2 separate regions of the Homo sapiens genome follow, and region 2 is linked to region 1. Evidence: fine-mapped expression QTL. A gene starts in region 1. The other region holds a variant in brackets. All regions are shown on one strand. Distances are from middle to middle.

Region 1 (2,500 bases):
AAAGGTCAAGTTGCCCCAAAGGCTTCTTCTTACTGCCAACAAAAAAAATCCTGAGTGCGGGGGATGAGGAAAGTTGTTCAGGAAAGATACAGGCATTTGCCATGACTACTGACCAGAAAGAACTTCTTGAACTACTTGGAACAGGCAGTGCCATGTGTGAATCCTCCATGAACCTCACATGTACAAACCTAGATTTCAACTTGCCCACTTCGGGCCACTCAGTCCTGAGCCAAAGCCTCCAGCCCAGTCCAGCCCGCAGCAAGGCCTTACCTGCTGCAGTGGACTCCTCAGAGTTGGCCCCCGAGCTGGTTCCTGTCGCCTTCTCACTGTGACTATGGCTGAGGCTCTGGCCCTGGTGCAGGAGGAGTCCCCAGAGGAGCCACAGGGCAAGACGGACGCATACATCCATGACTCTAGGTCTCAGTCAACATGCGTCTGATGTGGACACCTCGGGATCCCAGAGGCAAAGCCAGGAGCCCGGGAGTGCAGCCGACGGTCTCCAGGCAAGATGCCCTCGCGGCTCCGCAGCTGTCCAGCCACCCGCGAGCCTGCCCCCTCCAACAGCCAAAGGTCAAGTGCTCCAAGTTTGGGTGCGGGAGGAGGGCTGGCTCCTCAGGTCCAACAGTGGGTCCGCCGGGGCTGCGGCGGCCTGAGCTCGTGCCGCTTCCGGAGACTTCGGGCAGGGTGGCTGCGGGGCTGCTGTCAGCTCCGCAGATTACTACACCCCTGCGGAAGGGGGCGGCCGGAGTCTCCGCGGGCACAGAAGTGGAGGAGGAAGAGAAGAGAAGAGAAGAGAGGCGAGAAGGGGGCACCTGACCTCGCCCTGCCGAAGAGCGGCGAGCAGCAGAAGCTGGGGAGGGCGTGCGACCCGCAGGGTCCTGAGGGCGCGGGCGTCTCCGGGATCCTGGGCCTCCTAGGCCGAGGTCAGCGCCCCCGCCCAGTCCCGTGCCCAGGCGGCTGGCGGTGCCCAGGTCCAGCAGGCGGACGCACACCGGCCAGGCCCAGGACAGCGGCTTCCAGGCGGGCGGGCGGCGCGGGGCGGGCCCGGGGCGGGCGGGGGCGTGCGTCTCCGCGCCCGCCCCGCGCCGCCCGGTCCCCAGCGAAGCCCGGGCCAGCCCCAGCGCCCAGCTGGATCCCGGAATAACCGGTGAAGACGGCTCCCCGGAATCCCCGCCCCTAGCGGGCTCTCCCGGACCCCCGGCCCGCGCTAGTCTTTGCCAGGATCCCGCGCAAAGGATCAAGTCCCAGCTTCCCTTTCCCCACCGAGAGTCTCCAGCGCCAACCGCGGGCCGTCGGGCGGGTCCCTGACCCGCAGTTACTCAGGTAACTCAGGCCTGCGGCGGCGGCGACAGCAGCTGCCCTGCCCCGATCTCCGGGCCTTGGTGCTGCTCCACTCGCCTCAGTTCTAGAGCTGTCTAAACAGAGGCCCAGGACACGACGTTAGCCTCCCAGGAGCTGCCTGAGGCGACAACAGCCTGACCCGGCTCGGCCCGGGGGCGAGCTCCCAGCCCCCAACTCCCGGCCAGTTCCCAGGCTCCGCCCTCGCGCCTCGCCTGACAACCAATCGGCTTCCGCCTCTCTGCGGCTTGGGAACCCGCGCGCTTCGTCGCCCATGCGCAGCGGCCCCTGGTGGGAAAATCAGCAAACTGCAGACAGGACTCGGCGCTCCTGGGAGGGCCTGCTCTTTTGCAGAGGGTTGCCGAGTGAAGCTAAGACCCGCCCCGGGGGAGGCCCACGAGGGCCACTGGGGCCTGCGAGTGTTTTCTGAGGAAATGATGATGCCAGAAAGCAAAATGAAATGTCCAAACCACTCTAGCTAAAATTCCCCTACACATTCCTTGAGTCTGGGCTAAAGGGTGCCATCTGCTTTCCCGACCCCGCCTCCCTTCCCCTCCAAGCTAAGTGGGATGCCCTCCCTTAGCTCTCACAGCCCTTTTTCCTACCTGCCCTCAAGCTCTCAGCCCTTTAAGGTTTTTCGGTGGGGCCTGTAAATGCTTCCTCCCTGCATCTCATTCTCCCAGCTACCTCTCTGGTGGAGGAGGTGTCAGCGACTTGAGAATGAGTGCGCCAAAGAAGACAGAGCCACGCCTGAGCCTCCTTCAACAAAGCCTGCACTTCCTGTTCTCTTCTCAAGCGTGCTGTCAGCAGATCTTGACTGAAACCTCTGTGCCCTACCCTGTCCTTGGCACCAGACGCAGGGGAAAGGATCAGGCCCAGTCCCTCCTCTGACTGACAGTGCTAAACCAGCTACCTGTTCTGAGCAAGGCCCCTGAAGACTGGGAACACGAATTTGCCCAACAGCTGCCTGGCTTAAGGGTTAGGCCGTTGATATAAAAATACATGGCTAATGTAACCTACTACCACTCTCCCGGCTCTGTTAAGCTCCTGTCACACTAGCCTTCGTTAAGTTCCTAACCACGTCAAACTCAGCCACCTCACAGCCTTTGTATCTGCTGTTGCTTCTGCATGAAACACTCTCGCCTGCTCCCAGTTCCTCATG
Region 2 (2,500 bases), 130 kb before region 1:
AGGCTGGGTGACAGAGCAAGACTCTATTTCAAAACAAAAAAGAAAGAAAAGAAAAGAAAAAAGAAACAAAAAGAAAAGAAAGAGACAGAGAGAGAGAGAAACTTTCCAAAGTCAAACAACTAATAATTGGCAAAAGTATACCTGAAACTATCTTTCTTGCTTTATAAGTACATACTTTTGCTCTACTACATAGCCTTTGGGCATTCTCAGTGTTTTCCTTTTTTTCTTCACTTGTGCTCCTATAGTATGTGTTATTCTTAAAGTCTTTCCTATCATTTTAAGTACAGTAATCTTACCTCCATCCAGATTCTGCACATGATTCATAACATAGGGCAGAAGGGTAGGGAAGAAGGTCACAGAGGAGGTCAGACGTATAGGTCATATACTAACATATCTAGAGCCCAGACTATAGCAACTCCAGAAAAACAACCCAACACTGACTTCAGCTTTTATCCTGACAGGGAACTCACAAGTCCAAAGCACTCTGTCCCCAGTACCATTGACCAGCCCACTCTGTACTCCTCCTTTGCACTAGAGAAACTATTTAAAGGGCATAAAACAATAAGATAGTATCTTTGTTTTCGAATTCAAAATTCAAAAATAACGTCAACTCAGCACCCTTAAGAGAAAGGTCCTGAACCAAACACAATGTTATGAGAAACAGCAATGAATAAAACCTAGTTCATGACCCCTAAAGGAACTCAAAATCTGGTAGGACAGTTAAGGATGGACCCAATTACAATACAGAACAGAGCAACATGACAAACATAAGGTTCATGCCAAGTACTCTCGAACATGAGAAAGGATTACTTCCCACTGTAGGAGAACAAACAAGATTTCTCGGATTGGCTGGGCGTGGTGGCTCACGCCTATAATCCCAGCGCTTTGGGAGCCCGAGGCAGATGGATCACAAGGTCAGGAGTTCAAGACCAGCTTGGCCAACATGATGAAAGAGAGCCTGAGGCAGAAGAATCATCGGAACCTGGGAGGCA[G/C]AGGTTGCAGTGAGCCGAGATCACACCACTGCACTCCAGCCTGGGCGACAGAACAAGACTCCGTCTCCAAAAAATATATATATATTTCTTGGATGAAGCAACATTTAATCTAGGCCAGTAGTTCTCAACAAGGGGCAGTTTGAAAATTGACAACTGACAATAGTAACTGGCAATATTTTTGGTTGTCAAACTGGAAGGGGGAAGGGGAAAGGTTTGCTACTGGCATCCAGTATGTAGAGGCTAGGAATGCTACTAAACATCCTACAATGTACAAGACAGCTCCCCACAACAAAGAACTATCTGGCCCAAAATATCAATAATGCTGAGGTTCCGAAACCCTGATCTAGGCCTTGGTGGACAAATGAAATTTCTTTTTCCTTTTGTTTCTATTTGTTTTTTTTTGTTGTTGTTGTTGTTGTTGTTTTGTTCCAGGCATTGCACTGAAATGTGTGGGTTTTTTTTTTTTTTTTTTAAAGAGATGGGGTCTTGTTATGTTGCCCAGCCTGGTCTAGAACTCCTGGCCTCAAGCGATCCTCCTGTCTCAACCAAGTAGCTGAGATTATAGGCATGAACCACCAAACCTGGCTTGATTTTTACAGGCAAAGTGGGAAGCAGAGAAATGCCAGGATAAGGATTTATCTGGAACAGGGGCACAGTGATAAGATATGAAGAGCATGTCTGGGGTGGCTATAGCATAGAGTAAGGAAATACAGTATAACATGAACTAGCAGCATGAGCTAAAGCCAAATGGTGGGAGCATTGAATGACAGAGCAGAGTTTAGATTAATTAAACAAGCAAAAGTAAGCCACTCATTTATAGTTTTATCATCTCTAAAATGGAGTTAATAACACCTAGTTCACAGAGTGGTTAAGGATTAAACAAAACTTTATATGTAATCAGCTTGGCTTGGCACATGGTAGAAGTAATCTGATGAGTTGTGCTTTAATAATGCCAGTATTAGTGCAGGAACACAAAGTTATAGACAAAACAATACAATCAAAATCATTAGGGCACAAAGCAAGGCAATTTCTAATTAAGTGCTAAATCGAGCGATAGAGACTATGTACTATGGGAGTTAGTATTGAGATGAGGAAGATCAGTAGGAATGGGAAAGTCAGGGAAGGTTCATATAAAATGAAGCTGGCACATTCTAGAGGACAACTAAGATTGATACAGACAGGGCTAGGGGTGCAGGGAGGGGCACAAGAGGTTAATTCCAGGTAAGGAGAACTACCTGAGCAAAGAAAGGGGACTGGAAATAAACATAAAATGTTTATAAGACAAAGAAGATTGGAGCCAGACCGAAGCGGTAGGAGGTATGTCCAGAGAATTAACAAAGGTAGCCAAGGTGCAGTGGCTCTCACCTGTAATCCCCGGCAACTTGGGAGGCTGAGGTGAGGGGTTGCTTGAGACCAGGAGTTCAATACCAGACTTGGCAACATAGCAAGACCCTGTCTCTACAAAAATAGTTAGCCTAGTGTGGTGGTGCACACCTGTAGTCCTACCT

The links.
Region 2: its variant is fine-mapped to the expression of STIM1 in whole blood (TOPMed, PIP 0.98).

Annotation. Positions count from the first base shown.
Region 1 is chr11:3,854,180-3,856,679 of GRCh38, reverse strand. STIM1 (stromal interaction molecule 1) reads right to left here and starts at 1,016. Exons shown (of 13, transcript NM_001382567.1): 1 at 271-1,016. The coding sequence starts at 409. STIM1-AS1 (STIM1 antisense RNA 1) reads left to right here and starts at 1,102. Exons shown (of 2, transcript NR_183662.1): 1 at 1,102-1,323; 2 at 2,022-2,357. It overlaps MIR4687 (microRNA 4687), which reads right to left and starts at 618; the gene lies at 539-618. RefSeq lists enhancers at 101-150, 161-240, 391-600, 816-1,761, 1,971-2,040 and silencers at 821-980, 1,041-1,100, 1,581-1,630.
Region 2 is chr11:3,979,575-3,982,074 of GRCh38, reverse strand. The region is part of intron 2 of STIM1 (stromal interaction molecule 1); the gene reads right to left. Among named protein-coding and RNA genes, the nearest start is that of PPIAP40, 87 kb to the right of the region's middle. The variant G/C (reference allele first, on the strand shown) is at 993.